Homo sapiens: one gene and its partners. The protein of the gene in region 1 purifies or fractionates together with the protein of each later gene. This does not show direct contact. Each region holds a gene or a part of one and is shown in the gene's direction. Other genes may lie near its edges. The genes, in order: ECSIT, PPP2R2D, NDUFAF4 and TIMMDC1.

The links.
Region 2: the proteins of ECSIT (region 1) and PPP2R2D purify together in Homo sapiens (affinity purification with mass spectrometry; 5 studies listed by BioGRID and IntAct, with this or other methods). This does not show direct contact.
Region 3: the proteins of ECSIT (region 1) and NDUFAF4 purify together in Homo sapiens (affinity purification with mass spectrometry; 4 studies listed by BioGRID and IntAct, with this or other methods). This does not show direct contact.
Region 4: the proteins of ECSIT (region 1) and TIMMDC1 purify together in Homo sapiens (affinity purification with mass spectrometry; 5 studies listed by BioGRID and IntAct, with this or other methods). This does not show direct contact.

Annotation. Positions count from the first base shown.
Region 1 is NC_000019.10:11,512,119-11,519,142, reverse strand, and holds part of ECSIT (evolutionarily conserved signaling intermediate in Toll pathway, mitochondrial isoform 1 precursor), read left to right. Parts: coding exon 1-68; intron 69-4,921; coding exon 4,922-5,339; intron 5,340-5,863; coding exon 5,864-6,087; intron 6,088-7,024.
Region 2 is NC_000010.11:131,946,004-131,953,027, forward strand, and holds part of PPP2R2D (serine/threonine-protein phosphatase 2A 55 kDa regulatory subunit B delta isoform), read left to right. Parts: intron 1-1,526; coding exon 1,527-1,788; intron 1,789-3,106; coding exon of another isoform or gene 3,107-3,143; exon of another isoform or gene 3,144-4,401; intron 4,402-7,024. UniProt on the Homo sapiens protein: Substrate-recognition subunit of protein phosphatase 2A (PP2A) that plays a key role in cell cycle by controlling mitosis entry and exit. Involved in chromosome clustering during late mitosis by mediating dephosphorylation of MKI67.
Region 3 is NC_000006.12:96,894,874-96,902,854, reverse strand, and holds the start of NDUFAF4 (NADH dehydrogenase [ubiquinone] 1 alpha subcomplex assembly factor 4), read left to right. Parts: upstream 1-4,963; 5' UTR 4,964-5,053; coding exon 5,054-5,189; intron 5,190-6,007; coding exon 6,008-6,111; intron 6,112-7,981. UniProt on the Homo sapiens protein: Involved in the assembly of mitochondrial NADH:ubiquinone oxidoreductase complex (complex I). May be involved in cell proliferation and survival of hormone-dependent tumor cells. May be a regulator of breast tumor cell invasion.
Region 4 is NC_000003.12:119,515,547-119,522,570, forward strand, and holds part of TIMMDC1 (complex I assembly factor TIMMDC1, mitochondrial isoform 1 precursor), read left to right. Parts: intron 1-1,658; coding exon 1,659-1,769; intron 1,770-7,024.

The DNA of each region.
Region 1 (7,024 bases):
CCCGAGGCCTCTGTAGGGCCTGGGGAGGCACCTGCGGGGCCGCCCTCACAGGAACCTCCATCTCTCAGGTAAGCACCAGCCAGGCAGTCTTTTGGGTAGAGGGAGGTAAGCTTGGGATTTGCTCCCAACTCCTTCAGAATCCACTCTGTGAAGCCAGTTCTGGTGAGTCTGGGCTGGCCTATCAGTGCCGAGGTCCCATTAAAAGTCCTTAGTTTATGTATGTATGTATGTTTATGTGTTTGTTTTTTGAGACAGTGTCTCTGTCACCAAGGCTGGAGTGCAGTAGTGTGATTACAGCTCACTGTAGTCTTGACCTCCCAGGTTCAAGCAATCCTCCCGCCTCATCCTCCCAAGTACCCAGGACTACAGGCACATACTACCACACCCGGCTAGTTTTTGTATTTTTTTTGTAGAGACGGGGTTTCACCATGTTGGGCAGGCTGGTCTTGAACTCTGGGCTCAAGTGATCCACCTGCGTCAGCCTCCCAAAGTGCTGGGATTACAGGCGTGAGCCACCGCGCCTGGCCAAAAGTCCATAATTTATTTATTTTTTTGAAACAAGGTCTTGCTCTATCACCCAGGCTGGAGTACAGTGGTGGAATCAGGGCTCACTGCAGCCTCAAACTCCTGGGCTCAAATGAGCCTCCCACCTCAGCCCCCTGAGTAGCTGGGATCACTGATTTGAGCCACCATGCCCAGCTAATTTTTTTTTTTTTAGATGGAATTTTGCTCTTGTCGCCAAAGCTGGAGTGCAGTGGCGTGGTCTTGGCTCACTGCAACCTCTGCCTCCTGGGTTCAAGTGATTCTCCTGCCTCAGCCTGCCGAGTAGCTGTGATTACAAGTGCACATCACCACGCCCAGCTAATTTTTGTAATTTTAGTAGAGACGCGGTTTTGCCATGTTGGCGAGGCTGGTCTCAAACTCCTGACCTCAGGTGATTCACCCGCCTCGGCCTCCCAGAGTGCTGGGATTACAGGCATAAGCCACCGCACCCGGCCGCTAATTTTTTTTTTTTTTAAGTATATGGTCTTGTTGTGTTGCCCAGACTGGTCTTGAACCTCTGGGCCCTCAGTCCTTCCACTTTGGCCTCCCAAAGTGCTAGGATTACAAGTGTGAGCCACTGTGCCTGGACCCTAATTTAAGAGATGCTAGTGCCTACGTGGGTGAGGGGATTGACTTTGAAAATAAGGATGTATGAGCTCGGTGGATTTGTGTGGTGACTGTGAGCAGCTCCTCCTGCATCTACTTGTGAAGATGGGGCAGAAAACTGAATTTCTTTCCTATACCCATAGTGACCAGATGGCGAAAGCAGATTGACAGCCATAGATAGCAATAACGATGATGGTGGGAATATTAATAGTTCCCATATTGAGCACTTACTCTGTGCCCGGCCCCGCACTATGCATTTCATTTACATTACCTCCTTTGCAGTGTTTCCCCCTCGTTAGGCATTTTAGAGCTTCCTTTCTGATTTTTACCCCAAAGTGGTACAATACTACACCACCTATATTATTAATTGACTGAAATTTCAGTTGTTTTTTGTTTTTGAGATGGAGTCTCCCTCTGTCACCCAGGCTGGAGTGCAGTGGCGTGATCTCAGCTCATTGCAACCTCTGCCTCCCGGGTTCAAGTGATTTTCCTGCCTCAGCCTCCTGAGTAGCTGGGATTACAGGTGTGCGGCACCACACCTGGCTAATTTTTGCATTTTTGGTAGAGATGGGGTTTCACCATGTTGGCCAGGCTGGTCTCAAACTCCTGACCTCAAGTGATCCACCCGCCTCTCAAAAGTGCTGGGATTACAGGCACGAGCCACTGCGCCCAACCTGAAATTTTACTGTAAATGAATGCCTTTTTTTTTTTTTAACATTGCCTTATCAAAGAACGATATGGGATGGCTGTGGGGACCGCAGAGTAGGGGGACTGAGGGCACTGACTCCATTCTCAGCTCTGATGCTTTGCAGCTGTGTAACACTGTGCATCCCACTTCATCTTCCTGAGCCTTGGTTTTTCTCATCTGTAAAATGAGTGCAGTAAGAGTACCCCCCACCTAGGGCCTCACATTTGTAAAGTGCTCAACTGTGTCTACAGTGGAAGAATATTTGGTAAATATTGTCTCTTTCTTTTGAGATAGGGTCTCGCTCTGTTGCCCATGCTGGAGTGTAGTGGCGTGATCTTGGCTCACTGCAACCTCGACCCGCCAGTCTCAATTGATCTGCCTACTTCAGCCTCCTGAGTAGCTGGGACTACATACATTCACCACCATGCCTGGCTAATTTTTGTATTTTTTTGTAGACATGAGGTTTCAGCAGGTTGCCCAGGCTGGTCTCAAACTCCTGACCTCAGGTGATCTGCCCGCCTCAGCCTCCCAAAGTGCTAGGATTACAGGTGTGAGCCACCGAGCCTGGACTAATATTGGCTCTTACTTGTTAGCGTTTTGTGTGTGTGTGTGTGTGTGTGTAGATAAACACACACACATTCATTTATTTTTTAGAGATAAGGTTTTACTCTCTCGTTCAGGTTGGAGTGCAGTGACACAATCATAGCTCACTGCAGCCTGGGATTCCTGGGCTTAAGCAGTCCTCCTGCTTCAGCCTCCTGAGTAGCTGGGACTACAGGTATACACCACCACGCCCCGCTTATTTTTTTATTTTTTCATAGAGAGATGGAGTCTCACTATGTTGCCCAGGCTGCAATGCGGTGGTGCAATCAAAGCACAGTACAACCTTGATAACTAGCTGTATATTTTTAAGATGCCTTATATGTAACCCTTCTAATTTAAAAATTCAATTTAAAATAAGAAATTTGTTACTGTGTCATCTAGAACCAGAATTTGGCTACTCTGGAGGCTGAGGTGGGAGGATCACTTGAGCCCAGGAGTTCTGGGCTGTTGTGCACTATGCTGATGGAGTGTCCTGCACTAAGTTTTGCTTAATATTGTGACCTCCTGGGACTTGGGGGACCACCAGGTTGCCTAAGGAAGTGTGAACTGACCCAGGTTGGAAACAGCAGGTCAAAACTCCTGTGCTGACCAGTTGGCTCATGCCTGTGAATAGCCACTGCACTCCCGCCTGGGCAACATAGCTAGACTCCATCTCTTAAAGGGTCCCAGCACTTTGGGAGGCCACGGTGGGTGGATCACCTTAGGTCAGGAATTCGAGACCATCCTGGCCAACATGGTGAAACCCCGTCTCTACTAAAAACACAAAAATTAGGCCGGGCATGGTGGCTCACATCTGTAATCCCAGCACTTTGGGAGGCCGAGGTGGGCGGATCACAAGGTCAGGAGTTCAAGACCAGCCTGGCCAACATGGTGAAACCCTGTCTCTACTAAAAATACAAAAGTTAACTGGGCATGGTGGCATGTGCCTGTAATCCCAGCTACTTGGGAGGCTGAGGCAGAAGAATTGCTTGAACCAGGGAGTCAGAGGTTATAGTGAGCTGAGATCGTGTGACTGCACTCCAGCCTGGCAACAGAGCGAGACTCCATCTCAGGAAAAACAAACAAACAAAACATAAAAATTAGCTGGGCATGGTGGCAGGCGCCTGTAATCCTAGCTACTTGGGAGGCTGAGGCAGGAGAATCGCTTGAACCCACAAGGCAGAGGTTGCAGTGAGCTGAGATGACACCATTGCATTCCAGCCTGGGCGACGAGTGAAACTCTGTCTCAAGAAAAAAAGAAAAAGAAAGAAGGGGCTGGGTACAGTGGCTCATGCCTGTAATCTCAAGACTTAAGGTGGCTACGCCGGGCGCGGTGGCTCATGCCTGTAATCCCAGCACTTGGGAGGCCAAGGCGGGCGGATCACGAGGTCAGGAGATCGAGACCATCCTGACTAACACAGTGAAACCCCGTCTCTACTAAAAATCCAAAAAATTAGCTGGGCGTGGTGGCAGGCGCCTGTAGTCCCAGCTACTCAGGAGGCTGAGGCAGGAGAATGGCGTGAACCCGGGAGGTGGAGCTTGCAATGAGCCGAGATCGCGCCACTGCACTCCAGCCTGGGTGACAAAGCGAGACTCTGTCTCAAAAAAAAAAAAAAAAAGACTTGGGGAGGCTGAGGCAGGTGGATCACTTGAGGCCTGGAGTTTGAGACCAGCCTGGCCAACATGATGAAACCCCATCTTTACTAAAAATACAAAAATTAGCAGGGCGTGGTGGAGCACGTCTGTAGTCCAGCTTACTTGGGAGGCTGAGGCATGAGAATCGCTTGAACATGGGAGGCAGAGGTTGCAGTGGGCTGAGGTCACGCCACTGCGCTGCAGCATGGGTGACAGAATGAGACTCTGTCTAAAAAAAAAAAAAAAAAATTACAAGCAAAAAGGGCCACCAGGCACAGTGGCTCATGTCTGTAATCCCAACACTTTGGGAGGTGGAGACGGGATGATCACTTGAAGCCAGGCGTTCAAGACCAACCTGGGCAAAATAGTGCGACTCCCGTCTCTGCTGAAAATTTAAAAATTAGCCAGGTGTGGTGGTGTACACCGGTAGTTCCAGCTGCTGGACAGGGTGAGGAGGAGAATTGCTTGAGCCCAGGAGTTGAAAGCTGCAGTAAGCCACAGTAGCACCACTACATTCCAGCCTAGGCCACAGAGCCAGACCCCGTCTCAAAAAAAAACCAAAAAAAAAAACCCAAAAAAAAACCGGCATGTGTGTGTCATCACTGTGAATATTACCAAGTTGCCTCCGTGGCAGTTTTTACCAGCTCCCCGTAGCCATGGCTAACAGTGCCTGTTTCCTCCCTACTGTGCCAGCATTGTGTTTTATCGCACTTTGTAATGGCCTCGAATCTTGGGTTTGTAACCACAGTTCCATACCTCCGAGTCCTCAGGGAGGCCACTGGGACCTCTCTGAGGAAAGAGCCAGCCTGGCGGCCCCCCATAGACACTGAGAGGTGCCAGATTCCAGCAGTTCTCCTCCCTCCCCAGGTCCCTCGCCGGCTCCCTCGGGGCCTCCACTGCAGCGCAGCTGCCCATAGCTCTGAACAGTCCCTGGTTCCCAGCCCACCGGAACCCCGGCAGAGGCCCACCAAGGCTCTGGTGCCCTTTGAGGACCTGTTTGGGCAGGCGCCTGGTGGGGAACGGGACAAGGCGAGCTTCCTGCAGACGGTGCAGAAATTTGCGGAGCACAGCGTGCGTAAGCGGGGCCACATTGACTTCATCTACCTGGCCCTGCGCAAGATGCGGGAGTATGGTGTCGAGCGGGACCTGGCTGTGTACAACCAGCTGCTCAACATCTTCCCCAAGGAGGTCTTCCGGCCTCGCAACATCATCCAGCGCATCTTCGTCCACTACCCTCGGCAGCAGGAGTGTGGGATTGCTGTCCTGGAGCAGATGGAGAACCACGGTGAGGCCAGGAGGCTGGCGCAGGGTGGGGAGTGGGCTACACTGATAGCTGGCAGCACCTCTCCTGAGTCTCAGCCCCTCCTTCCTCCATGGCTCCGTCTCTGTCTCTCTCGCTCTTCTCCCTCTCCGAATCCCTCTTTTCATCACTCATCTCTCTTTCTTGCCTCCCTCTGACCTCCCCTCCCCTCCCCCCTCCCTCCCTCTCCTCCCCCCACTCTCCTCTCTTCTCCTCTCCTCCCTGCCTCTCTCTCCCTCCCTTCCTTCCTCTCTTTCTCTCTTTCTTTTAGAAATGGGGTCTCACTATGTTGCCCAGGCTGCTCTCAAACTCCTGGACTCAAGTGATCCTCTCCCCTTGGCCTCCCAATGTGCTGGGATTACAGGCATGAGCCTTTTTCTTTCTAATTCTCTCTGATTCTTTTCTCCCTGTCTGTGATCAATTCCCTCACTTCACTGTTTTCTTTTCTCCTCTTCCCTTCCCTCCTCCCCCTCCATCTCTGAGGTTCTGCCTGCATCTGCCCAGCACAGGTGTGATGCCCAACAAGGAGACGGAGTTCCTGCTGATTCAGATCTTTGGACGCAAAAGCTACCCCATGCTCAAGTTGGTGCGCCTGAAGCTGTGGTTCCCTCGATTCATGAACGTCAACCCCTTCCCAGTGCCCCGGGACCTGCCCCAGGACCCTGTGGAGCTGGCCATGTTTGGCCTGCGGCACATGGAGCCTGACCTTAGTGCCAGGGTCACCATCTACCAGGTATCCGCCCTTGTCTACAGCGTCAGCTGCCACCCCAGGCCAGGCTCCCGCCATTCCTCCCCTGGGCTCCCCTTCTCTCACTCTAGTGATTGTGGTGAATCAAGTTCTTTTTTGAGACAGGGTCTTGCTCTGTTGCCCAGGCTGGAGTGTGGTGGCACTATCTCGGCTCACTGCAGCCTCTGCCTCCCAGGCTCAAGCGATCTTTCCACCTCAGCCTCCTGAGTAGCTGGGACTCCAGTCACACACCACTATGCCTGGCTAATTAAAAAAACTGTTTTTTTTTTTCAGAGACAGGGTCTCACTATATTGCCCAGGCTGGCCTTGAACTCCTGGGCTCAAGCAATCCTCCTGCCTCGGCCTCCCAAAGTGCTGGGATTACAGGCATGAGGCACTGTGCCTGGCCGTGAATTGAGTTCTGATTCTCTGGCTGAGTCCCCTGGTAGGTTCCCATGGTCCTTACTGCTAGCACAGCTTGAGTGACCTCTGCTTCAGTCCGTTCAGGCTGCTCTAACAAAATCTCTTAGCTTGGGTCATTGATGAACAACAAAAATTTATTGCTCACAGTTCTAGAGGCTGGGAAGTCCAAGATCAAGGTGCCACCAGATCTAGGTCTGGTGAGGGTTTGCTCTCTGCTTCAAAGATGACACCTTGCTGTGTCCTCACATAATATAAGGGGCAAACAAGCCCCTCAGACCTCTTCATATTTTTTTTGAGACAAGGTCTGGCTCTGTTGCCCAGGCTGGAGCGCAGTAGCACTATCTTGGCTCACGGCAAATTCCACCTCCCAGGCTGAAGCCATCCTTTCACCTCAGCCTCCCAAGTAGCTGGGACTACAGTCGTACACCACCACGCCCGGCTAATTTTTGTATTTCTTGTAGAAATGGGGTTCCACCATGTTGCCCAGGCTGGTCTCAAACTCGTGAGCTCAAGCGATCCA
Region 2 (7,024 bases), on another chromosome or scaffold:
AGAGCCTGGGTGTCTCCTCAGAGGCTGCCAGCACTGAGTCCCGCCAAGAGCCACCCGTTGCCTCTGCCTCTGTGCGTGAGACCTGGGCTGAGGCCGCCAGCACACAGGAGGCCATTCCCAGCTGTTGGAATGAGCTCCTGTTCATGTTGAGCTTGGCTGGATTGGAAGCCACTTCCCTTAGCTGAAAGTCTAGCATTTTAATCCAGTGAGCTTTCAAGCTCCTTTTAGGTGAGGGAGGTTCTGGTTTTGTTTTTATTTTTAGCCATAAAGAATGGGCTTGACTTTATAGAGCACTGTAGTCAGCGTGTCCCAGTGTCCTGAAACATTGCTGACCCTTCCTCCAGTGCCAGCAGGTAGACACACGTCCAGTGACTTCCTCTGATGGGGAAGCCGCCAGTCAATCCCACCAGACTGAGCCGCTGCTCATGTGCAGCGGCGCCCCCAGTGCCTCGGTGGAATGTGCCCATGGACCGTGTGCAGCAGCCTTTTCGCCTGTTCTCTTTCCTGAGGTTGAGTGTGTTTTTAAGAATTCGTATTTCTACTAGAATTCCTGCGATGAGGATGAGTGTTTCGTAGCATTTGGCCTGTATCTTAAGCATAAAATTCTTGAGTAAATAATTTCAGATTCCAGTTCTATTTGTCATCAGAGTGATTTATTTGAGTAAATGCTTGGCGTCGGCACAGCTGGCTTCAAGTTAATTTCAGATGCTAAGCCGACAAACACAGGCTCCTGCATCAAGAAAAAAGAGAAAAAACCTAAAGCAGCTTCAGGTCAAGGAAGCACAAGCCAGGTGCAGTGGTGCTCACCTGTGGTCCCAGCTACCCTGGAGGTTGAGGCGGGAGGATCTTTCTGAAAATAGGAATCCAGTTTTGTCACAGTAGAGCTTGTGTATATTCAGTATTGGAGACAAACCTTGGCTGGCTGGCTTTGACCGGCGGGACCGTCTTGGTGGTTAAAATCAGGACCACAGCGTTGCCAGTCAAGGTGGTCACTCCTGCAGACCCACAAACTGTCGACCCTCCAAAAAGCAGGCAGTTTCTTAGAGGCACAGACCGCTGTGTCTGCATGACCATATAATGCTGTTTGTGTCTTCCTGTGATGTGTATGCGATAGAATTTCACGTGCTCGGGCCTGGTGCCATGAGGACGCGGAGACACTCCTACAGGAATGCGGTGGTGCTGAACCTGGGCACACATCAGGATGCCCCGAGGAGCTCCCACAGATGGCAGTGCCCAGGACCTTGCCTAGAGATTCTCATTCAGGGTCCGGGTGAGACTTGGGCGTCTACGCTTCTCATGCCCATCCCTTGTCCATAGCTGGTGCTAGAATGTCTTATCCGAAGCTCTTGCCCACGGAAGTCACAGAAGATCAGAAAACCTAGAGAATCAGAAAGATCAGAAGACCTAGTGTTGAGGCCAAGCCCTTCCAGAGTCTCTCTGAAGGGGCCACTTCCTACTTGAACTTGAAAATGATTTGTTCTCTGATTTTTAAACAGAAGCTGAAAACATTTTATTTTGTTTTTCAGTTTTTGAAGAGCCTGAAGATCCCAGCAGTAGGTCCTTCTTCTCAGAAATAATTTCATCCATATCCGATGTAAAATTCAGTCATAGTGGGCGGTACATGATGACCAGAGACTACCTGTCGGTGAAGGTGTGGGACCTCAACATGGAGAGCAGGCCGGTGGAGACCCACCAGGTCCACGAGTACCTGCGCAGCAAGCTCTGCTCTCTCTATGAGAACGACTGCATCTTTGACAAGTTTGAGTGTTGCTGGAACGGTTCGGATAGGTAAGGCCTGCGTGGAGATGAGCTGTCGCCCCAAGCTTGCTGGTTTCCGAGAGTGCAAGGTCAGTGAGGGAGGCGAGCTGTCCTCCAGCGTCAGAGGAGGACGCTCATAGGGTGTTGTTTTCCAGACCTTTTGATTGATGGATGATAGTATCAAGGTAGAGAAAATAGGATCTCTGAGCAAGTTTCTCACCTAGCTTGTCATTCCATTTATATTTAGACAAGAAGTATAGCACTAGGTACAGGCCGGCTATGTGTTAAATGCTTAGTGAATGATAGTGTATTACTTTTTATTATGCTGATAATGAGTGAAAAGGAAGGAAGTGGGGAAGTGATTCACCTCACTGGAATGACCGCGTTGCAGTCTGCCTTTCCTTCTGGAGAGAAGTAGATGAAAACACCCCAGAGCCACTGCCTGTCATGCCCAGACACAGCGTGGTCATGGCTGGTCTGAAACACCAATGTAATTTATAATGTGATGGTTCTAGTACCTTGATAATTTATTTTGTATACATTCTTTAAAGATAGCTATGATTAGTGTGGTTGAGAGTTACGTTTTTTTTATTATGCAAAAAGTTACGTTTCAGATGATGGAAGATTGTCTTGCACCATTTTTATATAGAATTTTTGTTCAGAATTCAAGAGAACAGAGGAGTCTATTGGCAATAAGTGATTGACTGGATATTCTGCAAAACCCTCTGGCATAAACACCTAGAAATGCTGGATATGATACAGCAGGTGTCTCTTCAGGTGCATAGTTGAGCTCACAGATAAGCAAGGGAAATCTCACAACGGCCAGAAACTAAGAGGGAGCTGAAACCAGAATGGCAGCCTCTGAAGGCGTCTATTCCGAGAGCAGCCTTGCAGCCCCGGCTGGCCTCAGGAGCATCAGCCCATAGCAGGAACCACTGCCCCTGTGAACAGCAGGTTATGGTGCAAAGCTGAAGCCTTGTCCCACACGAGGTGACTTGCTCATGGTGGCTTTTCCTGTATGTGCTTGGTAATTTTCAAGAGCTGAAGCCTTGGCCCACACGAGGTGTAGAGTTGGAACAGGGACCCCTGAAGATGGTGTCTCCCTCCACTGGCAGATAGGGTCCAAAGGGCAGTTTGTCTGTCTGAGGCCTTGCATGGGGGTGGCCAGCACTGCCCTGAGAAGTGGAAGCAAAACCTCCCCTCACAAGGGTTTGCAGTTTGGGTTTGTGCCAGCTACATCATGATCTGTAAAATCTCACACTGTGGAGCTCCTGCCTCCACGAGGGCTGTGTGCGGGCATCGGGAGGGACCGGCGTGTTTCCAGATCTGGCTTCTACTCTGTTTGCAGACTGACCTGCCAGCCTGTAGCATCTCACGGATGTTGACTGAAGACATGAGGTTCCCGGGTTCTCATGGCACAGCTGGCAGCATGAGCCTCTCGTTGGCCTGGGTTCCCCACGGGTGGACACTTGAGGCCGTGGCTGATGCACACTGAGCTTGGAGAACCCCACTGCTTTCACAGCGGGCAGTAAACACACCTGCACTTTGACTAGAAGAGACATGACCTCATTCCTCAAGGCCGCTTGCTGGAAGCACAGCCCTGAGAAGTGGCCCAGGTGGAGAGAATGGCATTGGCAAACTCCGTGAGAACACGCATGCTGGGTAGCTGCTGCCAGCACACCCAGGTCTCTCTGGATTTCGTCACATTAAAATCATCTAAACATGAGCTCACAGGTGAAAATTACCAAGCACATACAGGAAAAGCCACCGTGAGCAAGTCAGCAGAACCACAGCAGAACTGAACCTCCGAGAAGGCAGCTGTTGAGATCCTAAGTTAAAGAAGATAAACTAAGAATGCTTGAGATATTCACAGACTAGAGGAAGGAAACAGCCTGAACCAGGAGCCACATGACCGCTAAACGTGACCTGGAGACTGGAAAGGAATCAGAGGGAACATCTAGAAATGACAAGTATGATACATGACCGCCAAACATGACGTGGAGACTGGAAAGGAGTCAGAGAACATCTAGAAATGACAAGTATGATACATGACCGCCAAACATGACGTGGAGACTGGAAAGGAGTCAGAGAACATCTAGAAATGACAAGTATGATACATGACCGCCAAACATGACGTGGAGACTGGAAAGGAGTCAGAGAACATCTAGAAATGACAAGTATGATACATGACCGCCAAACATGACGTGGAGACTGGAAAGGAGTCAGAGAACATCTAGAAATGACAAGTATGATACATGACCGCCAAACATGACGTGGAGACTGGAAAGGAGTCAGAGAACATCTAGAAATGACAAGTATGACAGATGAAACTGTGTGGGTTTAGCAGCAGGTCCATTTTGGCTAAACAGATCTTGTATTAGTGGATGGAAAGGAAAACCAGAAGAAATGCGGGCTAAAGAGCCAAACAGAAAACAAGAGACACTAGGAACCGTGGAGGCCAGGGTGAGGCACAGCACACGTTTAAACAAAGTTTGGGGGTGTGAGGCTTAAAGTGACAGTGGCCAGCAATTTTCTCTAAATTATGAAAGCCTGAATACACAGGATCGGGAGCACAGCATCCATCCATCTCATAATGAAATTGCAGGACACCAAACGCAAAGAGAATATCTTAAATGCACCCAAGGAAAAAACGCAAATTACCTCTGAGAGCGGACACCGAGACTGAGACTCGGCTTTGCCACGGCCACAGTGGGAGCCAGAAGCCGTGTGACAGATCCAGCAAGTGTGACTCCTTACTCTCCACCGCCAGCTTAGAATCAAGCCTTGAAGTAGATGCTCGTTCAAGAATCTGCTTGTGATAAAGGCATTTTCAAATGGGAAACAATGTATCACAACAGGAAACTCAGTAGAGCGAGCTGTAAAGGGAGCCTGGCCCTGCAGAAAGGGGCTGAGACAGATAGGCAGAGGAACGCAGCCTGCAGGGAAGAGCAGTGCAAACTCTGAAGCTCTGCCACCTGGACGGCCTTAGTTATCTGTGTTTGGGGGAGAAAAATTAGAGCCCTCACCAGCCCCACACAATAAATAAATAAGCTCTGAGTGTTTCTAAGCCTAAGACATCTTTGTGAGCTCTGGAAACAAGGGCTTCTTTAAGAAGGCCCCAAAAGCCCAAGGAAAACATTAAGAAATTCAACTACATTAAATTTTAAACTTCTTTATATTGAAATTAAAAGTGAAAACAAAATCCACAAAAGGATAACGAACAGAGATTAAGTATCCAGAATAGGTGCAGAATTAGTTGTCAACAAGAAGGTGGCAAACAACTCAGAAAAGAGCAAAAACCATGAATGGGGTTTCGCAGAAATGGAAAAATAAATAGAAATGCTCATCCTTCTTAGTGATCAGCAAGTAAAGCCAGAGGGACGTCCTTTCATGCCCATCAGAATGATGATGGTTTGGGGGAGAGGGTGGAGACCAGTGGTCTTACCCAGTACCCTTCTTGTGACCTCCTTGGTGACATTCAGTCGGGTTGGGAGCTTCTTGCATGTTCAGACAAGAAAACGTGCTCAGATACCTGAAATAGCAAACAACTGGAGACAGCCCACAGGTGCATCATTAGAGGAATGGACAGGTAAGTTGTTCTCTATCATAACATATACTGAAAAGCAGTGAGAATCAATTATTAGAACTACATGGATCACCTAGGTGGATCTCACAAAGATAATCCACAAAGAAAATTCAGGAGGAATGCGTACGGTGCAATGACATACAACATGTTTAAGACATACAAGACGGTTTTGTTTTAAGAATCTGTAACTATTGGCCAGGCGCAGTGGCTCACACCTGTAATCCCAGCACTTTGGGAGGCTGAGGAGGGCGGATCACGAGGTCAGGAGTTCGAGAGCAGCCTGACCAACATAGTGAAACCCCATCTCTACTAGAAATACAAAAATTAGCCGGACATGGTGGTGCATGCCTTTAATCCCACCACTCAGGAGGCTGAGGCAGGAGAATCGCTTGAACCTTGGAGGTGGAGGTTGCAGTAAGCTGAGATTGTGCCACTGCACTCCAGCCTGGGCGATAGAGTGAGACTCTGTCTCAAAAAAAAACAAAAAAAATCTGTATACAAAATATAAATGTGTGTGGGGATGACACATATGTACTCTAGCAAGTGAGGACCCCAACTGGGGATGGGATAGGAGACCATCTTTCTTTCCAGAGTGGCAACACAGTGCAGGGGGGTCCCTGTCTTAGCAGTGACTTGCTGGTGTGCAGAGGGGTCACTCTCTTAGCAGTGACTTGCGGGTGTGCAGGGGGTTCACCACCTTACCAGTGACTTGCAGGGGGTCCCTGTCTTAACAGTGACTTGCGGGTGTGCAGGGGGGTTCGCTGTCTTAGCAGTGACTTGCGGGTGTGCGGGGGGGTTCACTGTCTTAGCAGTGACTTGCGGGTGTGCAGGGGGTTTCACTGTCTTAGCAGTGACTTGCGGGTGTGCGGGGGGGTTCACTGTCTTAGCAGTGACTTGGGGGGTCCCTGTCTTAGCAGTGACTTGCGGGTGTGCGGGGGTTCACTGTCTTAGTGACTTGCGGGTGTGCGGGGGGTTCACTGTCTTAGTGATTTGCATGTGTGGGGGGGGTTCACTGTCTTAGTGACTTGCGGGTGTGCGGGGGTTCACTGTCTTAGTGACTTGCGGGTGTGCGGGGGTTCACTGTCTTAGCAGTGACTTGTGGGTGTGCGGGGGTTCACTGTCTTAGTGACTTGGTGTGCGGGGGGGTTCACTGTCTTAGTGACTTGTGGGTGTGCGGGTGGTTCACTGTCTTAGTGACTTGCGGGTGTGCGGGGGGTTCACTAGTGACTTGCGGGTGTGCGGGGGGTTCACTGTCTTAGTGACTTGCGGGTGTGCGGGGGGTTCACTGTCTTAGTGACTTGCGGGTGTGCGGGGGGGTTCACTTAGTGACTTTCGGGTGTGTGGGGGTTCACTGTCTTAGTGACTTGCGGGTGTGCGGGGTTCACTGTCTTAGTGACTTGCGGGTGTGCGGGGGGTTCACTGTCTTAGTGACTTGCGGGTGTGCAGGGGGTTCACTTAGCAGTGACTTGCGGGTGTGTGTGTGGGGTTCACTGTCTTAGCAGTGACTTGCGGGGGGGGTCCCTGTCTTATCAGTGACTTGCGGGTGTGTGTGGGGGGTTCACTGTCTTAGCAGTGACTTGCGGGGGGGGTCCCTGTCTTATCAGTGACTTGCGAGTGTGCGGGGGTTCACTGTCTTAGTGACTTGCGGGTGTGCAGGGGGTTCACTGTCTTAGTGACTTG
Region 3 (7,981 bases), on another chromosome or scaffold:
GGGGAAAGGATTCCCTATTTAATAAATGTTGCTGGGAGAACTGGCTAGAATATGCAGAAAATTAAAACTGGACCCCTTCCTTACACCATACACAGAAATCAACTCAAGATGGATTACAGACTGAAATGTAAAACCCAAAACTATGAAAACCCTAGAAGAAAACCTAGGCAATACCATTCAGGACATAGGCATGGTAAAGATTTCATGACGAAGACACCAAAAGCAATTGCAACAAAAACAAAAATTGGCAAATGGGATCTAATTAAACTAAAGAGCTCTGCACAAAAAAGAAACTATCAACAGAGTAAACAGACAACCTACAGAATGGGAGAAAAGTTTTGCAATCCATGCATCTGACAAAGGTCCAATATGCAACGCCTATAAACAAATTTACAAGAAACAAACAAATAATCCAATTAAAAAGTATGCAAAGAACATGCCCAGACACTTCTCAAAATAAAACATACATGCAGCCAACAAACATGAAAAAAAGCTCAATATCACTGATCCTTAGAGAAATGCAAATCAAAACCACAATGAGATAGCATCCCACACCAGTCAGAATGGCTATTATTAAAATGTCAAAACAAAAACAAAAACAAAAACAGATGCTGGCAAGATTGTGGAGAAAAAGGAACACTTTTACACTATTGGTGGGAGTGTAAATTAGTTCAACCATTGTGGAAGATAGTGTGGCAATTCCCCAGAAACCTAGAGGCAGAAATACTATCCAAGCCCACAATCCCATTACTGGGTATATACTCAAAGGAATATAAATTGTTCTATTATTAATAAAAAGACATATGCACATGTATGTTCATTGCAGCACTATTCACAATAGCAAAGACATGGAATCAACCTAACTGTCCATCAATGATAGACTGGATAAAATGTGGTACATATACACCATGGAATACTATGAAGCCATAAAAAGGAATAAGATCATGTCCTTTGCAGGGACATGGATGGAGCTGGAGGCCATTATCTTTAGCAAACTAACACAGGAACAGAAAACCAAATACTGCATGTTCTCACTTATAAGTGGGAGCTAAATGATGAGAACACATACACACATGGAGGGGGAACAACAAACACTGGAGCCTGTTGGAGGTCGGAGGGTGGGAGGAGGGAGAGAATCAGGAAGAAGATCTAATGGATACTGGGCTTAATACCTGGGTGATGGGATGATCTGTGCAGCAAACCGTCATCTAAAGTTGATGACTGTAGTGAACAAAACAATAAGCCTTCCAAAAATGTCTCTTAATCCCTGAACCTGCAAATGCTACCTTACATAGCAAAATGCACTTTACAAATGTGACTAAATCAAGGATCTTCAGATGGAGAGATTATCCTGGATTATCCACGCAGGTCCAATGTAATCATAAGGGTGTTACGATGGAAAGAGGGAGGTAGGAAAGTCACAGAGAAGGAAATGTGACAATGAAGTGATGCAACTGCTGGCTGCCAAGAAATGCGGGAAGTCTCTAGAAGAACCCCTTCCCCATTTAAAGTAAAAAAAAAAAAAAGGCATCCAGGAGGAATATATCTCTGCTGACACCTTGATTTTATCCTTAAAAATCTCATTTTGGACTTCTGATCTCCAAACTGTAAGATAATAAATTGTTTTGTTTTAAACCATTTGCGGTAATTTGCTAGCAGCAATGGGAAATGAATACAAATGAATACAATGACAAAAGTCATGAGTGCAGTAACCACAAAGCAGGCATCTGGGCATAATTGCTGGTTGATCATTCTAATCTCTAATCTGAGACCCAGTGTTCCTCAATATGAATACTGGATCTGCACAAAGCCTAGTTTGTTTTGGTTTTGAGTTTGTGGCACTACCCCCCGCTCCCAGTATTCTAGGTTTTACAGACCCAAAACACTGCATCACTATGAAATTGGCCAAACTTGGGAACCTTGTAAATTATTTCAGTTGGACTCCTACAAATTCTCTGGTTTCTAATCTGGAATCCAGGCCCTGGAGAGGTTCTCTCTGCCTGAACACCAGAACCTCTGCCAGAATAAGTCATTCCTCCATAAATCTGTTGTGCTCCTCACTAGTGGTTGAGATTTGATTGATGAAACCTCTGAGGGCTGTCCTGGGCCCCTTGAGCCAACTGTCACCTGGGTTTAGCTACTGTAATCCTTTGGAGAACGCAGAATGCTGTTGAATTATGTTCAAAAGAAGGAGTACCCAATGGTAAAAGTCTAGGCAGAGAGAAAGACATGAGGGCAGAGGGAAACAAAGTGGGGACTATTTCTGTGGCCAATGTCAGGCACAGGCAGGTGGCATTTTATGCCCGAGAACTAATGATTCCCACCCATATTCCAACCTTAATAAATCTAACAATACCACCACGTGTGCTGAGCACGTTAATCAGCAAATAAAAATCAAATTTAGCATTTTTTATTTTTTAAAAATTAAATTATTGAAGAACATGAGTCTTACCGTAATCTCAAATTTTTTTATCACTTTCATTCACCTATTCACCAGAGCTTCAGAATATGTGTCCTTTTTAAAACTGCTCCCTTCTCCTCTGAAAAATGAAAAACAATGCAAATATTGAACATCAGATTCTGAGCTGGGCATTGTACTAGACACATATTTTTAATCTGTGTAAAACCCCTTAGGTGATTACTATTATCCCAATTTTAAGATGAGCAAAGTGTGTTCAACCACATTAAGTTACTTGCATAAGGACTCACTTCTGGAAGCAGGGCTAGTGTTCAGGCAGAGAGAACTTGTCTGGGGTCTGGACTCCAGCTCAGGGATCCTACTTGTCTTTCAGTTCATTTGACCTTTATTTGATAATTGTTTAGTACCTACTGTGTACTAGCTGTTCAATGTGTTGAACAGTGAACAAAACAGACAAAGTTCTGTCCTCAGAATTTACATTCTAGTGTGTTGTCAAGACCCTGGGTTTATTAGTATCTTAAGATATTCAGCCATACACATGCATCATAATACTCCACTCAGATGGAAGCTTCATTCTAAGCAGCATCCTAGTTATACTTTCCTTGGGGATCTGACTTCAATCCTTAACATAAGCCCAACAGGAGTTCTTAAGTTCAGAGTTCCTGTTAATTTATATGTTTTGACAAGAAGAGCTGGAATTATGCATTTATGGTTCAGGTTTTATTTCCATGATTCCCAAAGGGTGACAGCCAATTGTGAGTTTCTGATGGAGTGCATCTGCCTTCTGTTTTGCAATTTGAGGGCCTGAGCAGCACTGGGCCAGGATCAGGCAAAGCAGCTGACACATGCTGGAAGCTCTTTCAATGTTGAATCCAAGCTCTATTGGAATGTGTGAATTCAAATAATTATTTCATATTGTAATCCCTACTGTCCTGACAGTCACTTCTAACATTACTTTTTCATACTGCCCGAAGTTCGGTGGAATTTCTATGAAAATGAGATTTTCACTTTTAAAATATTTTAACAGGCAGTGAGTCGAATTGCTACCATGATTAAAGCACATAGACATAATGAGGCAGATTAAAATTTCTTAGCACCCATAGAAATAGAAATACCGTGCCTAAAAAGCCCTGAATCACAAGCATGCTTAAAAGTATCAAAGATAGAAATCTTGGAGCAGCCTGCCACCTTCAGGATAACTTCCCAGTTAATGCTATCTGAGATCACTGATTTCAGCTTCTATAAATTCCAAATACCAATCCCTGTAAAAATGTTCAGTATAATTAAATAAAGGGCATTTAAATTAGAGTGGCTGAAGCCGTCTTCCTTGCAGTGCTTTTGCTCTGATTAAGCATTATACTTAATGATTACATTAGTTTTCTTTTTAAAAAACTTTCCCTTTCTTCATTTTGGTTCTTTGATTCTTGTTTTATTATTATTATTCTATTCGATTATCTTTACATCAATATTTTCTTACTTTAAGCTGGTTAAAAACATCCACTCTACTTCATTTTGCTAAGCAGAGATCAGAACACTAAAAATAGATTTTGCAGCCACAGTAAGAGAAATACTGTAACTTCCTTCCTACTGCTTCCTTCCTGGTGGGTTTTATTTTAGATTAATAACAATATTTCTAAAGGGTCTTAAATAAAAGCAGCACTACAGTAACCCATTCAGGAAATGGAGAGAGACGGAGAAGGTGAATGTAACACTCGTTTTTTTGTTTGTTTGTTTTTTTTTTCTGACGTCTTATTGTCTGTTCCTTTCATTAAATTACACAGAGGCTTAAAAAGAATGAAGAAGGCAAGAGAGAAGAGAAATAGGAGAGGGAATGACTCAGCATTTAGTAGCATGGAGAAGTAAATTAGTAGCAAAAATAAGATAAGGGAAAGTATAACTAAAATCGATACCATTAGGTCAAATGAGAACGGGATGTAAAAAATAATGGAAAAAGAATACAGTGGCTTGAAAATGCATCAGGCGGGGGGACAGGAAAATAAGAGGCATTTAAATGAGAGCGGCTGAGAACAAATACTCATCGAAAGGGAACATCCTTTCATTATTTTCCTTTCACAAAAGCAGGAAAGGGCAACTTGAGAGCCCAGTTTGACCCTGGTTCAGTAAGTTCCATTTTTATCGGCTAACTCTTTGGTGGCATTGCCCTGTGAAACAACTTCAAGGTCAACTTCCTTACGACTTTGATTTTCAGCTCTTCACTGAAACTTTGGAATCACGTGGAGTCTTATCCAATGCTGGGCCTCACTCCACAAGAATTAAATCAGAAAGTCTGGGGTAGGGCCCGGCACAGAACTTTACAGAGCTTCCCGGGTGACTCCCTCGGAGTTCCAGCGTTAAAAGCAACCGTGGGTCTGGGGACTTAAGCCCCGCCACCTCCCGCCGGAAGCGGCCCTCGTGGGAGCCGTCACTCGCCCCGAAGGGAGGGGCTCCCTTTTAAATGCCCTGGGCAGAGAAGCGGTGTGTGGCCTCCCGAGCGCTAGGGGGCGACGGGCACGCATTTAAGCGCCCGCGGCGGGGCTTCCCCTCACTTGTGCGCATGCTCCGGGTGTCCCGGAGTTGTCCTGCGCCGGTGTTCCCACGTGCGGCCTGAACCTGAGCGCATAATGTTATGAGGAGATGGGAGCACTAGTGATTCGCGGTATCAGGAATTTCAACCTAGAGAACCGAGCGGAACGGGAAATCAGCAAGATGAAGCCCTCTGTCGCTCCCAGACACCCCTCTACCAACAGCCTCCTGCGAGAGCAGATTAGTCGTGAGTGGTGCGAGGGCGTTTCGGGGCCCGGGGGCGCGGAGTCCCTGTGCTGCCCGGCTGTCCCTAGCGTGGGTCCGGAGGCCGAGGGATCGGCGTCAGCCTGCTCGGCCGCAGCCGCTCGGGTTGGCGGAGCGTTGGAAGGGGGAGCCGCCAGGCCGGTGACATTGAGACTGTCCTCCGCGCCCGCGGTGAGGTCGGCGGCCCCGCCTACTTCCGAGACCCAGAGGCAGCAGCCAGTGCTCCCGCTAACCAGGCCCTCGCCGGCTGCTGTCACGGACTTGATACAGGGAATCAAAATCCGAGAGGGTCACAGAGCTTTCTCTAGGGGTCTTCACTGGACGATGGACGCAGAGCCTGACCTGGAATTTTGATTTCCATCTAAAGTATTTTCCTAACAGTCCAAATGATTATGTTTATTTTTTAAAAAAATTAAAGTGGTTAGGCCGGGCGCGGTAGCTCAAGCCTGTAATCTCAGCACTTTGGGAGGCCGAGGCGGGCAGATCACCTGAGGTCAGGAGTTCGAGACCAGCCTGGCCAACATGGCTAAACCCCGTCTCTACAAACAATGCAAAAATTAGCCGGGCGTGGTGGCGCGCCTGTAGCCTCAGCTTGTCGGGAGGCTGAGGTGGGAGAATCTCTCGAACCCGGGAGGCGGAGGTTGCAGGGAGCCGAGATCGCGCGACTGCACTCCAGTCTGGGCAACAGAGCGAGACTCCGACTCAAAAAAGAAAATAAAAGAAAGCGTTTGTGTTAAGCGTTTAGGATATTACAGGAAATTTTCCTTGATTTTAATATTGTGACTTTTTTCCTTTCCTTAGTCTATCCAGAAGTTAAAGGAGAGATTGCTCGTAAAGATGAAAAGCTGCTGTCGTTTCTAAAAGATGTGTATGTTGATTCCAAAGATCCTGTGTCTTCCTTGCAGGTAAATGTGTGTTTAATTAAGTGAATACACAATTTACTTATTTTGGGGCTTCAGGAAAATGATTAAGTGTGGCAAGTAGTAAAAAGAGTGCTCTGCAAGTGTGTGTTGTGATCAATCTACACGCCTTGGCAAAGTTTAAGCACACTGGTGTAAGACAGCAAGACACTTATGCCTTGGTTCACTGGATATTTACCAGAATTCTAAAATAACTTGTGGAAGTATTGATACAAGCAACTGTGTGAATTATTTCATAGTATTTCAGAATTTGTAGGATTTGGTAAGGCATTACTTCCAGTGGTTGTCATTTGAGTGACAAAAGCAGAGCTTTAATATTATTTTCTCATTCTTCTGTGGATTGAGGTATGTTCTAATCTCAGAGACTCCTTTAGTAAGTGGTGTTGTTGGATTTTGTGGGGTGTTCCTGTTTGTTTTTTTAAGGATGTATTCAGATAGGATATTTAAAATTAGAAGGATCAAAGAATACATTAGGAATGGGAACCTATGTGTAAATCCATATTCTGTATTATGTAAGTCCTGGGCACAAGTGCTTTGTATATAGTGATGAACAAAACTAGTCCTTATTTTCACAGGGCCTATGATGTTGTGAAGGACACAGCCATTAAACAAATGAGCAACAATGTGACCATAATTATGGGAAAAGTACGTGCACTGCTGAGTATATTGGAGGGACCTCTTTGAAATGGGAGGATCAAGGATGGTTTCTGAGGAAGTGATAGTTATGTTCAGGCCTGAGGAGGGATCAGTTGGAGTTAACCAGATGAGTTTTTGGGGGCAGGAAGATTCTAGTTAGGGGTAAAGTTTGATTAAAGGCCAAGGAAGTGCCAACAACTTCCAGATTTTTTTTTTCATTCTAAAATATTCTGGTACTGTCCCTCTCTCTCTGGATATTTGCACAGATAGAATTATTAATATAATTTTCACTACAGAGGAGAAATAAAACAAGATTTGTTAATCGCTGCACATAGTAATTGTAGGGTTCAGTTATCACCACATGCTCACATGAAAAAAGTATAGGGTTAATGTCTGTGTTCTTACGTCATTTTAAAATAGGTGTTGAGTAATACTCCCCAAGTATTCTTTCTCTCATGTTACTTAATTATGCATCTGAAAATTCACTCTTGGGAGCAAAAAAAAATTAATGCTTTGTATGTATAAGACTCAGTTATACATATAATGCGTAAAGAGATACGTATATAGTGATATTAAAATTTCATGGGGACATTAGGAAAAGTCTAGATTCCTTAGGGAGAGTGATAATGAAAACTGGAATTGCCTTTTGTTTATGTTCTGTGTCCCTTTTTTTCCTTCGGGCAGTTCATGGTTGTGATGCCTCTAGACATCATTGATACTGTGCCTTTCATATGGCAAATAATTTATTTGTTGTCTGACTTTTTAACATATTTATTCAAAATTCTGTCAAATATTTCAGTCTTTTTGCCTTTTGTGGTAAAGGAATACTGGGCCCACTCTACCATCATATAAACTCTTCTGTATTTTCTTCCAGTAGTTTTATAACTACATTTTATATTAAAATCTTTATCTGGCATTAAATGTGGTCTTTGATGTGTGGAATAGATCAGTTGAACCTCTTTTCAAACAGATGGCTTGTTGTGTAAATATAATTTGTTGAAGAGCCCAGACCTTTCTCCACTTACTTAAAATGCATCTCTAGATACACATATGGGTCTATTTATGGACTCATCAGTTTTACTTATTTTTCTATTTATACACTAGAACCATAGTTTTAATTAATAGAGCTTTATAATGTGTGTTGATATTTCTTATAGTCTTCTCTCATTCTTTTAAAAAGTTTCTGGTCTCTTTTCACACATTAATATTTTTCCAGATG
Region 4 (7,024 bases), on another chromosome or scaffold:
AATATAATCATGGGCATAATATATTCACAGTTGAGGGATTAGGCAGGATATTTGGGGGGACCACTTTAGAATTCTGCCTACCACACTTGGTTAAGGTGTTATCTGTTCAGTGTCTCCATTGCAAAGATATCTTTTTCCCAATGTGATTAATTAGTAATCTGGAGGGTGAAACTGAATATTCTGCTCTCCAGCTATCTTTTCATCATGTGTTTTTAATGATCCATTGACGACCCATGCTGTAATCGGTTGGTTACTAGAAAGGTGGTTGTAAATGTTGATAAGCTAGTTCTGTCAGTTCTTCTGTTTTTATTAGTTGGTATTTGTCTGACTAGAAGAGTGCTACCTTCGTCCTCCACCTGTTCACCCCTTTGTCTACCTCCTTTGAAGGAGAAGGTAATGCTATAGATTTAATGATTTTTTTAAAAATTTGAATTAAATAAAATCAGCATGTCATAATCTACTGCTGCCATTGCTTTTGTTGTAGTGTTAATATACCAGTTTGGTTTGAAGGGAAAAGTTGTAGGAGTTAGCAACAAAAATATTTTTTATTGTGGTAATAAACACATAGCATAACATTCACCATCTTAATCATATTTTAAGTGTATAGTTCAAAAATGCTAAGTATATTCACATTGTGCATGAGATCTCTAGAACTTTTTTATCTTGAGAAATGAAACTATATGCATTAAAAACTAATTTCCCCTCCCCATACCCTCCAGCCCTCAGCAAATATATTTCTACTTTCTGTTTCTAAGATTTTGACTACTTTAGATACTTCATATGAGTGGAATCATACACTATTTGTCCTTTTGTGACTAGCTTATTTACTTAGCATAATAATGTCCTTGAAGTTTATCTATGTTGTAACCTGTTGAACGGATTGCCCTCTTTTTTAAGGCTGCATAATACTCCATTGTATGTGTATGTTACATTTTCTTTAACCATCTGTCAGTGAACATTTATGTTGCTTCCACTTAGCAAAAATAGTTATTAGTATGAGGTTACTTAAATTGTAGCTGGAGGAAATTTAAGGTGTATGAAGGTCAAATACTTCTAGTCTGAGAACACAAGAACCAAACTCTCTTCATCACTATAATAATTATTATCTAAATCAGTTTCTCAATGGGTTGCTATTGGCATTGTGGGTGAGACAGTTACGCCAGACTCTTGAACTTCAGGATATTTTGGTGGTCCCACCCCCAAAAGCCAGTAGCATCCCTCCCTCAACCAGAAATGCCCTCCACATTTCCTGTCTCCTAGAGGAGCTGGTGCCATTCTGAACTAGAAATTTCATTTTTGAGAAATCTTTGGTGTGGGGCTACTTACTAGAACTTGTCATAAATATATATATTTTTCCTCTTTGTTTTGATTTATTTCTCATTCCTCATAAAAACAGCCAGTTTCTAGATCTGTTGTTTTATTATATATCAGTTAACTTTAGGAGGTTGTAGTGATTGTTTTTGTCTGTTGTTCAGACCAAGGAAGAGATTACCTCAATGTTTTTCTTTATTTGACAAGGACACTTTAATTCTCAAATGTTCCTGTACCTAATAGTGAACAAGTGGCTCTGGTGTTGCTCACACCTTAGCAGAGAATCTCACATGTTGCAAGGTCTAATGACTCGTTTTTCCTAAGCTTTCCCTCTCCTTTCTTCTCAGCACTCCTGTAGGAGGCCTGCTGATGGCATTTCAGAAGTACTCTGGTGAGACTGTTCAGGAAAGAAAACAGAAGGATCGAAAGGCACTCCATGAGCTAAAACTGGAAGAGTGGTAAGGAACATGTTGAGCCCAGGGAATCTTGGCTCTCTTGCCCCAGGCCTTATATAGTGGTGCTCTTTTAAACTTATGTACTCTAAACTGCCACTCAATTCAAAGAAGAGTTTATTTTTACCAAGTCCTTCAACTCATACTGTACATTGTCTTTTAATCTATTTAAGGAGAATGGAAAAATGAAAGAGATTGATTTTAGTTTTAATTTAATGAAGATCTTTCTTTGGATATCTTTTTAAGTTAAAAGTGGTGTAAATCTTGCTTGCATGTTTTTTCTTTTCCTGTGTTCTTAACTGCATAGGAAATTACCTAAAGGGAATATTCACCAAGGAGTGAGCTTTACCTGGCTTACTTAAAAAGTGACATCCTTAGCCTAGCAGGGTGGCTCATGCCTGTAATCCCAGCACTTTGGGAGGCCAAGACAGGTGGATCACCTGAGGTCAGGAGTTCGAGACCAGCCTGGCCAACATGGCAAAACCCCATTTCTACTAAAAGTACAAAAATTAGCTGGGCATGGTGGCACGTGCCTGTAGTCCCAGCTACTCAAGGAGGCTGAGGCAGGAGAATCACTTGAACCTGGGTAGCGGAGGTTACAGTGAGCCGTGATTGTGCTCCAGCCTGGGCCACAGAGCAAGACTCGGTCTCAAAAAAGAAAAAAAGTGACTTTTTTTTTTTTTTTTGCATACATATGTAAGTAAGACACAGCATGTTAAGTCTCCACAAAAATTCTATTTCTTGCTGTAGATGCAGAGGAATTAGGTGGACAATGGTTGTTCATGCACTGAATGCCACTGAGGAACATGAAAACTTTCACCTATTGCATCTAATCATCTCCTGGGATGCAATTTGTGGGATAGGGCAATCAGACTGATAGCTGACTTTGCACAGATTCAATATGTAAGATGAATATAACAGGCTGCCATCTAGTGCTCCTGAGTACAAATGATTTTCACTAGTTCACCTTCCTGGGTACCTAAGACAGCATTGGCTGCTGCTGCTGTTGCTGTTTTGGTATTATAATTGGATAGATGAGAAATCATTTTTTTCCAGTGTTTTCATTTGAAACCTCCATTTCTGCTAACCACACACACACAGACACACACACGGAAATTCTTAAGAGCTGTAGGTCCATCATCCAAGGACTTAAGTGCTATATGAGAAGAAAAGCATTGAGGTTGCAGTGAGCTGAGATTGCGCCACTGCACTCCAGCCTGGGCCACAGAGCAATACTTCATCTCAAAAAAAAAAAAAAATTAAAAAAGTAAATGAAACATTAAAAACTGCAGAAGTTTGTCAGTGATTTAGAGATCAGTGATTTTGAGATGGAAAAGCTTAAGAATGGCTGGCTATGGCCATTCTAAGGTCATTCACCTGGAGTCTTCCACCACTGGCAACCCTGCCAATTCTAGTGGCTGAGCTGCCACGTGCACCCCCTGAAGACTGGCTCATCCAGGGTCCACTGCCACCATTTACCTCCCCCCATCAGTTTAACAGCAGATTTGCCAGCAGAAACCTTACAAGTCAGGAGAGAATGGGATGATACATTCCAAGTGCTAAAAGGAAAAAACAAACAAACAGACAAACAAAACCCAAAAAACTCCTGCCAAGAGTATTATACCTAGCAAAGCTATTTTTCCAAAATGAAGGAGAAATAGTCTTCTCAAGACAGGCAAACACTGAGGGAATTTATCACCACTAGACTGCCTTATAAGAAATGCTTAAAGAACTCCTACATCTGAATGCAAAAGCACGGTAACTACCATTATGGAAACGTGAAAGAATAAAACTCACTGGTAGAGCAGATACAGAAAGGAATCAAACCTTATAATTACAAAAATCTACCAACCATGAAAATAAGAGGGGAAGAAAGGGGAACAAAGATTATACAAAACAACCAGGAAACAGTTAACAAAATGACAGGAGTAAATCCACACCTATCAATAACAATGTTGAATATAAACACTTTAAATTCCCCAATTAAAGATTTAGAGTGGCTGAATGAATAAAAAAAAGTTTAAAGACTCAACTATATATACTGACTACAAGAAACTCACTTCACCTGTAAAGATACAGATAGGCTGAAAGTAAAGGGATAGAAAAGGATGTTCATGCAAATGGAAACCATAAATGAGCAGGAATAGCTATACTTATGCTAGATAAAATAGGCTTTAAATAAAAAACTATAAAAAGAGACAAGGTCATTATATAATGGTAAAGAGATCAATTCAGCAAGAGGAAATAACAACTGTAAATATATATGCACCCAACACCAGAGCATCCATATATATATATATCTAAACAAATAATATTAGAGCTAAAGGGAGAGATAAACCCTAATGTAATAATAGCTGGGGACTTCAACACCACACTCCCAGCACTGGACAGATCATCTAGACAGAAAATCAACAAAGAAATATCAGACTTAAACTGTACTGTAGATCAAATGGATCTAGCAGACATTTACAGAACATCACATCCAACAGCTGCAAAATACACGTTTTTCTTATCTTGAAGTGTTCTTCAGGATAAACCATATGTTAGGCTACAAAACAAGTCTCAACAAATTTTTAAAGATCAAAATAACATCAAATATTTTTTCAGACCACAGCAGAATAAAACTAGAAATCAGTAACAGGAAGGACTTTGGAAACTGTGCAAATACACAGAAATTAAATAATATGCTCTGGAACAACCAATAGGTCAATGAAAAAATTAAGAAGGAAATTTAAAAATTTCTTGAAACAAATGAAAACAGAAACACAACATACCAAAACCTATGGGATACAGCAAAAGCATCACTAACAGGGAAGTTTATAGCAATAAATGCCTCCATCAAAAAGTAGAAATGTTTCAAATAAACAACCTAACACTGCACCTCAGGGAACTCGAAAAGCAAGAACAAACTAAACCCAAAATCAGAAGGAAATAAATAAAAAGATCAGAGCAGAGCTAAGTGAAATAGAGACTTAAAAACAAACAAAAAAACACAAAAGAAGAACTAAATGAAAAGTTGGTTTCTTGAAAACAAAATCAAGAAACCACAAGTTAGAAAAAAGACCCAATTAAGGTAAAAAACAAAAAAGGAGACATTACAACTGATACCACGGACATAGTCATATCATTAGAGATTATTATGAAACAACTGTATGCCAAGAAATTGGAAAAGCTACAGGAAATGGATACATTCCTGAGCCCCTATAATCTATCGAGATTGAGCCAAGAAGTAATAGAAAACTTGAACAGACCAATAACAAGTAACAAGATTGAACTGGTAATAAAAAGTCTCCCAACAAAGAAATGTCCAGGACCACATGGCTTCATTGCTAAATTCTGCCAAACAGTTAAAGAAGAATTAAGACCAATTCTCAAACTGTTCCGAAATATTGAAGATGAGAGAGTTCTTCCAAACTCATTCTACAAGGCTAGCATTACCCTTATACAACAACAAACAGACAAAGGCTCATTAAACAACAACAACAACAAAACCTACAGGCCAATGTATTCTACAAAACAATCCTTAACAAAATACCAGCAAACCAAATCCAAGAGTACATCAAAAAGATTATACATCATGAACAAGTGGGATTTATCCTAGGGATGCAAGGATGGTGCAGCATACACAAATCAATAAATGTGTTACATCATATAAACAGAAGGAAGGAAAAAAACCATATGATCATCTCAGTAAATGAGAAAAAGCATTTGGTAAAATTGAACACCCCTTCATGGTAACACCTCCCAAAAAGTTAGGGGTAGAAGGACTATTTCTCAGTACAGTAAAGGCCATATATGTCAAACTCACAGCTAATATCATACTGAACAGGGAAAAGTGAAAAGCTTTTCCCTCAAAGAACTGGAATGAAATAGGAATGCCCACTCTTACCAGTCTTGTTCAACATAGTATTAGAAATCCTAGCCAGAGCAGTTAGGCAAGAAAAAGAAATAAAGGGCATTGGAGGCCAGGCACGGTGGCTCACACTTGTAATTCCAGGACTTTGGGAGGCCGAGGCAGGCGGATCACTTGAGGTCAGGAGTTCGAGACCAGCCTGACCGACATGGTGAAACCCCATTTCTACTAAAAATACAAAAATTGTCATGGTGCACACCTGTAATCCCAACTGCGTGGGAGGCTGAGGCAGGAGGATTGTTTGAGCCTGGGAGGTGGAGGTTGCAATGAACCAAGATGGTGCCACTGCACTCCAGCCTGAGTGACAGCATGAGACAAAAGAAAATTAGGCACAGTAGTGCATGCCTATAGCCCCAGTTACTTGGGAGACTGAGGCTGAAGGATCCCTTGAGCCCAGTAATTCAAGGCAGCAGTGAGCCATGATTGTGCTACTGCACTCCAGCCTGGGCAACAAAGTGAGTCCCTGTCTCTTTAAAAAAAAAAAAGTGGGCGGGGGAGCTTGGGGGGAAACTTGTATTTCTCAAAAAATACCTACAAGTGCTAACAAGTATATGAAAAAGTATTCAACATAACTAATCAGGGAAATGCAAATCAAAACCACAATGAAATGTGGTTTGGGGACAGTTTGGGAAATTGGAGTGATATTTATCCCAATTAGAATGTCTATTATCAGAAAGACAAAAAATAAATTTTGGCAAGGATGTAGAAAGAAAAGGGAACTCATATACTTTTGGTAGGAATGCAAATTATTACAGCCTTTATAGAAACAGTATGGAAGTTCCTCAGAAAACTAAAAATAGAACTACTGTAAGATCCAGCAATCTTCCCTACTAGGTATTTATCCAAAGGAAAAGAAACCAGCATATCAAAGAGTTATCTGCGCCCCCATGCTTATTGTAGCACTATTAATAGCCAAGGTATGGAATCAACGTCAGTGTCCATCAACAGATGGATGGATAAAGAAAATGTGGTATATATCCACCATAGAATACTATTCAGCCATAATAAAGAATGTAATCCTGTCATTTGTGGGAACATGGATGAGCCTGGAGGACATTGTTATGTAAAATAAGTCATACACAGAAAGATAAATACTGCATGTTCTGTTGCTCATGTGGGAGCTAAAAAATGGGCTCATAGAAGTAAAGAGTAGAATTATGGTTACTGGAGGCTGAGGAGGGGACAGGGAAAGGCATAAGAAGAGGAGATTTAAGGGATTGATTAATGAATACAAAATTATAACTAGATCGGAGGCATAAATTCTAGTGTTCTGTGGCACTGTAGGATGACTATAGTTAATAATTTATTGTATATTTTCAAGTAGCTGGAAGAGAGGATATTTGAATGG